Homo sapiens: one gene and its partners. The protein of the gene in region 1 interacts with the protein of each later gene in a pairwise test. Each region holds a gene or a part of one and is shown in the gene's direction. Other genes may lie near its edges.

The links.
Region 2: the proteins of DR1 (region 1) and RNF34 interact in binary tests that used the Homo sapiens proteins (3 or more experiments, as listed by UniProt).
Region 3: the proteins of DR1 (region 1) and NFYC interact in binary tests that used the Homo sapiens proteins (3 or more experiments, as listed by UniProt).

What each region holds. Positions count from the first base shown.
Region 1 is NC_000001.11:93,348,871-93,352,524, forward strand, and holds part of DR1 (protein Dr1), read left to right. Parts: intron 1-3,654. UniProt on the Homo sapiens protein: The association of the DR1/DRAP1 heterodimer with TBP results in a functional repression of both activated and basal transcription of class II genes.
Region 2 is NC_000012.12:121,406,464-121,410,117, forward strand, and holds part of RNF34 (E3 ubiquitin-protein ligase RNF34), read left to right. Parts: intron 1-1,997; exon of another isoform or gene 1,998-2,012; coding exon of another isoform or gene 2,013-2,246; intron 2,247-3,654. Other genes in the region: KDM2B (lysine-specific demethylase 2B), read right to left, coding at 2,013-2,246. UniProt on the Homo sapiens protein: E3 ubiquitin-protein ligase that regulates several biological processes through the ubiquitin-mediated proteasomal degradation of various target proteins.
Region 3 is NC_000001.11:40,698,117-40,701,770, forward strand, and holds part of NFYC (nuclear transcription factor Y subunit gamma), read left to right. Parts: intron 1-3,654. UniProt on the Homo sapiens protein: Component of the sequence-specific heterotrimeric transcription factor (NF-Y) which specifically recognizes a 5'-CCAAT-3' box motif found in the promoters of its target genes.

The sequences.
Region 1 (3,654 bases):
AATTATTCCAAAGAAGTTTTGTTTTGAGAGATTACATTTTTAAAGAAATTCTTAAGGTTTATATGTTTTAGGTGTTTGAAGTGTGTGCCTATACACTAATCATAATAGGACATTTTTATACTTTTCTGTCAGCATTGATTAGGAATGTAGAATATATCCAAATGGAATAAGTAATGTACATTTTAAAGTGATATGATTCTCACATGTTGAAGTTTGGGTTTTTAGTGATAAGTTTAATGAATTAGACTTTGCTTCAGGACATTTCACTTGTTCATTTCTCACCTTGCTTTATCTTGTCTGAGCAAATTAAGCATTCTGAGATAGTTCTGTAAAATGCAAGTTAAAGTTGAACTAATTTTATCACCAGTATATCTATGAAATAACTTATTTAAAAAAATTTTTTTTTCTGTTTTGCTTATTTTGAGTTTAAGAAAGTAGACTTGGTATTGAAGACCATAGATACATGAATAGAGGGAGTTCTAAGCTATAAAAGGTGTTCCTATTTTGTTGCAGTTTTTTGTGAACACGTATTCTTGAATGAGTTCTAACATGTTCTGTTGCCTTATAGAAAGAATTGACATTGAGAGTCAGCTGTAAGTTCCGCACTGAGAATTCTTTAACCTTAGGGAAATCTTTTAACTAAGGTTTTCTTATTTGTGTACAAATAATACTTGATTTCAGGTATTACTTGTAATTTTTGAGAATTAGTCAGGGGTTGAGAACCTTACATGAAATATCTCCCCTCACATTTATGAGAATTGTAACTGAAAGTAGTAAAAGTTTGAAAGAGTATCTGAGAATTTGCGTCTTCAGCTGTTGAGTTGCTCCAAGCTGTCTTACGTTGAAGGAATTTTTAAAAAATTCCTGTCCTTCTCACACTAGTAGCTTTGTAAGATAACATGAAAATAGATCACTGGAAAAGATGAGGGAAAGACCAACACTCAATTTTTTACTATTTGATTCAATAGACATAAAATTATTTTGTCAAATTGCAATGAAGGTACTTAAATGCTTTGAATTTCCATACTTAACTAATGTTAACCATTAGGAGCAGTTTTGGCATAAGTCCATGGACCACAGTTTGAGAACCTTTGCTCTAAAGCCTAAACCAGTCTCTGTTGGAAAGTGGACGTAAGTAGTAAATAATCGTTTATACAGATATTTTTTCCGAAGGGACACATCTAATTTGCACTGCAAAATTTATCACATAATCAAATGCTTTTCAAGTTAGGATTTTATTAATACTTTTCTTTAAATTAATATATCTTTTATTTCTGTTTTCCTTCTGCCACCCCACAATTACTTATTGAATACTACCAATTATTTGGCATCATGCTAGGTACTACTAAGGATATTAAGATAAATGATACTCAATTCCTTCTCTGCCATTAGTCTCTCATTGTTGTCCAAGATTTCCAGTAGTGATACCATGGAGGACATGGTTCTTAAGGGGTTTCAGAAACCTTTGCCAGGCTAATGAGCCAAGAAGTCACTTTGGCCTACATCCTCTTAATGTATTTTATGTGAAATACATTAGTTGCTTCCTTCCCACAAACAAAAGAAAATGGAGAAATTAGAGAATGCTGATTTATATAGTATTTAAAAGGTACTGTATATCACGTAATTTTACAAATGAAAAACATGTTTTATGCATATGAAGTATAAAGTGAGTCACATAAATTCATGTTATGACAGAACCTTTCAGGAGTACATCACTTTGTAAAATAAGATAAGCCTATATGAAGATTATTGTTGCTTCAAAGAAATTTTTACTTCTTTTTTGTTTTTTTAATAGCTGTCTTGTTAACATCTGTCTTTTAAGCTGAAAAATGTGCAAAGTATTTTTTCCCCTAATGTACACCATGGACTTTTCTGGTTGTAGTTTTGAGATACACGGCATAGGGTGACAGATAGTGATGTGTGTTAATTTTACTCACAAATTTTTAAAAAAATATTTTTCTGTTTTGGAAAGATGAGATCCTTAGAAATAGGGCCATGAATAGTCCATAAGGTCTCTGTACAAATTAGAAAAAGGCACTCCTTCCTTAAAAAGCATTACTACTGTCTGCCAGAAAAAGTATCACAGTAAACATACGAATTTATGGTATTTACAATAAGAATGGCCCTCTAGTATGTTGTGTACTGAACAACCTACCTAACTGTATGTAAATGGTGGCCCTGCTTGGGAGCCATTTCCTTTATCCTTTAATATTCTCTTTGTGTAAAATGGGAATGATAACTAATACATGATAGCAAATAATGTAAAATATCTCTCTATTTAGAAGGTATTATGTCCAGTTATTGATATCTGTTAGCCCAATGTGTTTAAAATTAAAGTCAATGAAATTTTTGAAATTAAATTTATGGCTGCTCCTTTTCAACCATTTTGTTGAGAGTATAGTTTTTACGTATGGCAACTCTTTGAATAATATTAAATATTAACCTTGGACCTACTTGAAAGCAGTGTTCTCAGCCTTAAATGTTTTTAAAGGTAGTTATATATTTAAAAAAAATTCTTAATCCAAGCCCTCCATGGTTAAAAATAGCTTGGATTGGATTTTCTTTCTTTTTTTTTTTTTTTTTTTTTTTGAGACAGAGTCACGCTGTCAGGCTGGAGTGCAGTGGTGTGACCTCGGCTCTCTACAAGCTCTGCCTCCCGGGTTCAAGCAATTCTCATGCCTTAGCCTCCTGAGTAGCTGGGATTACAGGCGTGTGCCACCACGCCTGGCTAATTTTTCTGTTTTTTGTAGAGACAATGTGTTGCCATGTGGGCCAGGCTTGTCTCTAACTCCTGACTTCAAGTAATCCCCGTGCCTTGGCCTCCCAGAGTGCTGGGATTACAGGCATGAGCCACCATGGTCGGCTGGCTTGGATATCCTTAATGTCTAGTATAGTAACTATGGTATTTTGAAGGGTTGTCTCTCCATTGTGTTGATTTGTTAATTTTATAAATTTGATATTTTATAAATATGCTTGTCCAGCTTGTATTTAAATATGATATTGTATAGCTATACATTTATTTAGGTCCTGTACACTTATGAGGGTACTCTTTTAAATTTAAAATAAAAAATACAGATGAGAAATACATAGTCTGAGTTGGTTAAGTGATTCTTAGGTGCTAGACACTGTCAAACGCCTTATATTAATTACCTGTTGATTCCTACAACCCTAAAACTAATAACAATATGATATTTATTGCTTCATTTTTAATTTTTAAGAGGCAGGGTCTTGCTTTCTCACCCAGGTTGGAGTGCAGTGCCACAGTCATAGTTTACTGTGGCCTCAAACTCCTGGGCACAAGCGATCTTCCTGCCTCAGCCTCCCGTGTAGCTGGGACTACAGGCGCCTGCCACCACGCCGGCCAATTTTTTTTGTATTTTTAGTAGAGACAGGGTTTCACCCTGTTAGCCAGGATGGTCTCGATTTCCTGACCTCATGATCTGCCTGCCTTGGTCTCCCAAAGTGCTGGGATTATAGGCGTGAGCCACCGTGCCTGGCCATGTTGGTGAATTTGATATACAGAACTTAGAATAATGCCTTTCTGAAGTTTTTAGGGAGGTCAGGGGAAGTGAGTTAACTTAATAATAGGACAGTACTATGCTTTTTGGCATCAGATTATTTCTAAAGAAGGTTGATGAAAACAGCTTAACATTT
Region 2 (3,654 bases), on another chromosome or scaffold:
TTCAGTAGAGATGGCGTTTCACCACGTTGCCCACGCTGGTCTCGAACTCCTGAGCTCAAGCAATCCGCCCACTTCAGCCTCCCAAAGTGCTAGGATTACAGGCGTGAGCCACCGCGCCGGGCTGGTGTTAAGTTTTTAAATACGATACCTGGTTTTTAACTGATATAAGCCAGGCAGACCATGGTCCTATGGTGGCTCTACTGAGAGCAGCTTTGGCTTAAGAGAGTGGGTAGGAAAGGGATTAGACTATCAAGAACAAGTCATTTATTTTTAGTAATCACTGATGACTAGAAAATAAACTCCAAACACAGGTGAATTCTCTGAGCTTGGAGTTTTGTGCTAGGCATAGGCAGACAGTTGCCTCATTCTCTTATTCTCTATGTTGTTTTAAACTACATTCATGGTCAAGAGAGGAAATTTAGCTATCTTCACGATTATCGTTCTTTTTTAAAAATATAATTTCAACTTTTAGATTTGGGGGTACACGTACAGACTTGTTACATGGGTATATTGAGTGACGCTAAAGTTTGGGGTACAGTTGGTCCCGCCAGCAGGTAGTGAACACAGTACCCAACAGTTAGTTTTTCACCCCTTGTTCCTTTCCTCCCTCCTTCCCCCTCCCCCCAGATTATTGTTCTTTCTAAACTGTTAGAAAAAGGGTTATACTTCTTACATACCACTTGGATGCATGTGGTATAACCCATGGAGTTTTGCTGCCAACTAAGGTCCCCAAGTAGGTCATGAAAGCCCAGATCATGGCTTGCATTTTGAAAGTTCCAGACTTTTCAGAGATCTGGCTTTGGGCTTTATTCACGGAGGAGTAACTGTAGGGTTTTTTTCCCCCAATGAACAAATAATGGATGGTGACCCTTCCATAAAGAAGGCACCACTTTGGAATTGAGGCCAGTGAATTGACTGCAAATTCAGAAGCCAAAAGGGTATGCCTAGTATACTGTCAGAAGCCAGAGGTGGGGGTATGCCTAGTATACAACAACTCAGTGAATTGACTGCAAATGCAGAAGCCAAAGGCATATGCCTAGTATACAACAACTCAGTGAACTGACTGCAAATTCGGAAGCCCAAGGGCTACGCCTAGTATGCTGTCTTTCCAGGAATTGAGTTTTCTCAAAATCTAGGAGGAAATGGAGTGGTTTGTAGAAGATGCTTCAATCTTACTATCAGTATGGAAGCAATGAATGAATAAAAGAAAAATAAAGGAATACAGGCTAATTTAACTGGAGGAAGATCTTAAAGTATAGGGAAGACAGAAATGGAACAGGAAAGAACATGAACTTAGGTCTCTAAAGCTTTTAAAAGGAGGGTGCAGAAGAGGGATCCTTGTTGGTTATGACCCTACCGGATATGGTAACTGGGTTCCAAGGAAATATAACAGAGGCAGAGTGTGAAGAGCTCAGAAAATAGATTGGCATATGTTCCCCCCATCCCTTGTCCCCCTCTCCACTGTAAGAGCTCAGATTCAATAAACCCTTGGGGAAATTGTCTTTTAAATAGTTCTCCAATTGCTTTTATAGGTTCTGTCAAGTCATAACAGAAAATGTGGGCCAAGCGTGGTAGCTCATGCCTGTAATCCCAGTGATTTGGGAGGCTGAAGCAGAAGGATCCCTTGAGCCCTGGAGTTTGAGATCAGCCTGGGCAGCATATCAAGACCCCGTCTCTAAAAAAATAAAAATAAATGGCCAGGTGTGGTGGCTCACGCCTGTAATCCCAACACTTTGGGAGGCTGAGGCAGGCAGATCACCTGAGGTCAGGAGTTCGAGACCAGCCTGGCCAACATGGTGAAACCCCGTCTCTACTAAAAATACAAAAAATTACCAGGGTGTGATGGCAGGCACTTGTAATCCCAGCTACTTGGGAGGCTGAGGCACAAGAATCACTTGAACTCAAGAGGCAGAGGTTGCAGTGAGCCAAGATCATACCACCGCACTCCAGCCTGGGTAACAAGAGTGAAACTCTGTCTAAAAAATAAAAATAAAAATAAAAATAAATAAAAACTAGAAAATGTGTACAGATTTAAGAGGGGAAAGATCAGTATAGGACACTTCAAGCACTGTTAGGTGAGTGTCAAGGTGACAGTTGTAGGTAGAGATGCCTTTGCCCTGAGGAGGCATGCAGAATAAATTTCTGAAATTTATGAGAAAGTACAGGAAGATGAAACATACTAAAGGAGAGCCAGGTAGATGGAGTCCAGGCTTGGAAGGATTTATCTTCTGGATGGATTCTTCATCCTGGAGGTGAAGAAGGACAAAAACACTTTGAACAATGGCTGCTTTTGATAGACCCAGAAATCACTGACTTTCTCCTCATATTGGGAGATTTCACACAAGAAAACGTGCAGAGGAGTTAAGGTGGGAAATAAAAGTTGGGGCCCAAAGGCAAAGAGCAAATAAAATCAAGGAGAGCACCAAAGTCCAGCAAAAGTTACAGGCCAATCTGTGGTAAAAAGGAAAGGGATTCATTGAAGAATCAGATTGTTAAAAACTCAGGTGACCCTTTCTTTTTTTTTTTGAGATGGAGTCTTGCTCGGTCACCCAGGCTGGAGTGCAGTGGTACAGTGGCGTGATATCTGCTCACTGCAACCTCCACCTCCCAGGTTCAAACGATTCTCCTGCCTCAGCCTCTCGAGTAGCTTGGACCACAGGCGTGCACCACCATGCCCGGCTAATTTTTGTATTTTTAGTAGAGACGGGGTTTTACCATGTTGGCCAGGCTGGTCTCAAACTCCTGTCCTCAGGTGACCTGCTGGCCTCGGCCTCCCAAACTGCTGGGATTATAGGCATGGACCACAACACTTGGCCAAAACTTAGCTGACCCTTTCTTAAAGGATTGGGTAAAACCAAAGTGGGATGCAAAATACTACATATCCCACAACAGAAAAACATGTAGACAGGTCTTGGGGAGTATGTTGCCGAGGCATTAGTTCCAGAACTCTAGGGCCACAGGCTTCCAAAGTAACCACAGCCCTTTCCACTCAGGAATTTGTGGAGGGTGATGTCCCAGCTGAAACAGTGTAGGCAGGAAGAAGACATCTTCCCTTTGACTGAGCAGGTCTTAAGCTTTTAACCTGGCCTGTATATCAGAATTACCCAGGGAGTTTTCAAAAAAATTCTGGTGCCCAGGCTGCACCACAGACCAGTGAAATCAGAACCTCTGGGCCTGGGACCCCAGGAATCAGTATTTTTAAAGACTTGCCTGGTGAGTCCAACATGCAGCCAAGGCTGAAAACCATTCTCTTAAGGGCAGTTTCACAACCCTAGGCAATTCCTTAGCAAGAAGTACTGACAGCAGCTACGAAGGTACAGGACTAAAACACCTGTTTCACTGAAGGGCAGCGGGGGTGGGTGTTACCTGGCACTTCAGTGCTAAAATGAATGTAAAGAAATTATGTTCATGGCCAGGCGTGGTGGCTCATACCTGTAATCCCAGCACTTTGGGAAGCCGAGGCGGGCGGATCATCTGAGGTCAGGAGTTCGAGACCAGCCTGACCAACATGGAGAAACCCTGCCTCTACTAAAAATACAAAATTAGCCGGGCATGGTGGCAGATGCCTGTAATCCCAGCTACTAGGAGGCTGAGGCAGCAGAATCGGTTGAACCTGGGAGGTAGAGGTTGCGGTGAGCCAAGATCGTGCCATCG
Region 3 (3,654 bases), about 53 Mb from region 1:
CTTTGGGAGGACGAGGCTGGCAGATCACCTGAAGTCAAGAGTTTGTGACCAGCCTGGCCAATATGGTGAAACTCCGTTTCTACTAAAAATACAAAAATTAGCCAGGCATGGTGGCAGGCACCTGTAGTCCCAGCTACTCAGGAGGCTGAGGCAGGAGAATCGCTCGAACCCAGAGGCGGAGGCTGCAGTGAGCTGAGATCATGCCCCTGCACTCCAGCCTGGGTGACAGAACGGGATTCCCTCTTTGAAAAAAAAAAAAAAATTCACGTTCAAGGTACTATATATAAGGTGTCCTATTTAAATGAATGCCATTCATTCATTTATTTATTTGCTGGAGTCTTGCTCTGTCGCCCAGGCTGGAGTGCAGTGACATGACCTCGGCTCACTGCAACCTCTGCCTTTTGGGTTCAGACGATTCTCCTGCCTCAGCCTCCTGAGTAGCTTGGGACTACAGGTGCGTGCCACCACACCTGGCTAATTTTTGTATATTTTGTAGAGACAGGGTCTCATCTTGTTGGCCAGGCTGGTCACGAACTGCTGACCTCAGGTGATCTGCCTGCCTCAGCCTCCACTGCGCCCAGCCTGAATACCCTTCATTTAAAGCCAATAGTATATCCTTTGCCTCCCGGGTTCAAGTGTTAAAGTCAATTGTATATTCTTAATAAGATTCAATAATTGTCCTATTCTTAAATACATTCATGAGTATGAACCATAAATAGTGATCTTGAGCAGTGTTTCAAAGTGTTTTAATAAGAGGAATGAGATGGGCCGGGCGCCGTGGCTCACACCTGTAATCCCAGCACTTTGGGAGGCTGAGGCGGGCAGATCATGAGGTCAGGAGTTTAAGACCAGCCTGGCCAACATGGTGAAATCCCATCTCTACTAAAGATACAAAAAATTAGCTGGGCGTGGTGGTGGGCCTCTGTAACCCCAGCTACTCGGGAGGCTGAGGCAGGAGAATCGCTTGAATCCGGGAGGCAGAGGTTGCAGTGAGCCGAGATCGCGCCTCTATTGCACTCCAGCCTTGACGACAGGGTGAGACTGTCTCCAAAAAAAAACAAAACAAAACCAAAAAAGGAATGAGATGACTCATAGGAAATGATGTTAGAGTATAGAATATTTTGTATCATGTCATTGGCTTAAATCTGAAGTACTGAAGGTTTTCACAATCCCAAATTACTGTTGCCCTTGGCCTCCAGAGCTGTAAACTGTCCAGTAATCTCTATGAAGTTGAGATTCTTTGCCCAGTGTTAAGAAGATATATCCCTTTGACACTGGCATGATCTGTTCCTTTTAAAAGAGAAGAGAGAAGGGGCTAATAAAGTACACATTATCTGCACAGTTGACATCCTTGTCATTTTAAACTGTTTTAAAAATTATTACTGTACCCTGAAAGTAAGTAGCATAGAATTTGCTCATTATGAAATGACGAAGTTGGGGCCTTTTAAGAAGCCAAGAATGCTTGGTTGGCAATCACTTAGGAGGCAAAGGATTGCTATTTATGGTGGTATTTAATGTCATTTTCAGTAGTACTAAGTTAGAAAGGAAAACGCCATAATGTGTGTAAAACTCTAACCATTTTGGAAGGTTATCAGAATACAGTTGCCTATAGTCTTTTCACTCCACTAAAATTTGTAAGTTGGTTTAGAGTAGCATTTCCCAAGCTCTTCCACTGAACATTAGTTCTGTGTAGTGCTAATCAGTGTCCTTTGGGGATAAAAAGAGGATCCTTGACAAAAAATGGCCAAAGTGAAATGCCTTTCTTTACTGCAGAATTATTATTCAGAGCCTTGGTGCTTATTTGCCTATGACCCTTCAAGAGGGAAGATACATTACGCGGTGTTACTCAGACTTACTTGGTCATGGACCGCTGTTTGTGAGAACACCTAATAAACGTTTCATGCTATGACTGGTGTGTAGTGGAGCCCAGTTGAGCAGTTCTGGTGTAGTCTATGAATAAAAAAATGAATCATTTTGTATAAGATAGCTTGGTAATCGTGGGAAAGGACTTTTCTGAGAACAAGATACATCTTCAAGGTAACGTAGACTCTTAAGGATGAATGTGATTTCAAAGGTCATCTAATCCAATGCCCAATAACAATAATAATAGTAGCAGGTACCATTTTTTGAGTACATGCTTTTTATCAAGCACAGTGTTGTTATTCTACATGCCTTATTAACCACTGGGTCTTAGTGATTTTTGAATCTTCTTTATTTTTTATTTTACTTTAATTAATTTTTTTGAGATGGGGTCTCACTTTCTTGCCCACGCTGGAGTGAGGTGGTGTGATCATAGCTCAATGCAACCTCAAACTTCTGGGTTCAAGTCATCCTCTTGCCTCAGCTTCCTGAGTAGCTGGGACTACAGGGATGTAGTACCATGCCTGCCCAGCTAATTTTTTTATTGTTAGTAGTGAGGAGGTCTTGCTATGTTGTCCAGGCTAGTCCCAAATTCTTCAGTTCAAGTGATCCTCCCACCTTGGCCTCCCAGAGTGTTGGGATTACAGGTGTAAGCTACCGTACCTGGCTTATTTTTTATTTTTTGAGATGGAGTCTCACTCTATGAGGTTCAAGGCTGGTCTTGAATTCAAAAAAATTTGTTTTATTTTTTAATTTTTAATAAACTAATAAATGGACGTTAAGGAGATGACAAATTCTGAATTATTTGCTTTGTTGTCCAGGCTGGTCTTGAACTCAGTGTCTTCACTACTGCATCCAGTCACCAGATAACTTTAGCATCCTGTTTTCCACGTTAGTGGTCTAGAGTGCTGCCATCCTCCCACTGTGTCCCCTTCTCCAGCTTATTCTCCACACTGTACCCAATGGTAAGGAACTAAACAGTCTTAAACATGGGGCTGGGAAAATCAGAATTACACTTTAAACGTGGGACTGATTGTGCCAGTCCAATGTTTAAGACGCATTAGTTCCTTATCATTGTCCTTAGAATAAAGTTTTAGTATATTAGCTTTGTCCAACCCTGTATACCTTTCTTTTTTTTGAGAGAGAGTCTCGCCCTGTCACCCAGGCTGGAGTGCATTGGTGCAATCTTGGCTCACTGCAACCTCTGCCTCCTGGGTACAAGGGATTCTCCTGCCTCCAAGGGATTCTCCTGCCTCAGCCTCCTGAGTAGCTGGGATTACAGGTGCCTGCCACCATGCCTGGCTAATTTTTGTATTTTAGTAGAGATGGGGTTTCACCACGTTGGCCAGGCTGGTCTCAAACTCCTGACTTCAGTTGGCCTCCCAAAGTGCTGGGATTAAAGGCATGAGCCACTGCGCCCGGCCTACCTTTCTAACTCTACTTCTAGCTTCTTGCTTCTGGGCTGCTGCTATACCAAACAGGAATGTAATACTTTCTGTCAGCTTCAGGCCTTTGCACATGCAGTTCACTTTGTCTATCTTGGTTTTTATTCTTAGGATTTTAATTCTCCTAAGAAGCTTTCTCTGACCAGCCTAAAACTTACGTAAGCCCTGGGTTAGGTGCTATGCTTATGTCCTCCCATAGCATTTTGCATTTGCATGTGTTGTAACTCTTAATGTACAGCATCATGATTGCCTATTTTAACTTTCCTGTTTGTTACAGTAGACTTTAATCTCTTTAAGGACAGGAACTGTGTCTTGTTTAGAATCCCCAGAGCTTATTTAGTACAATGGC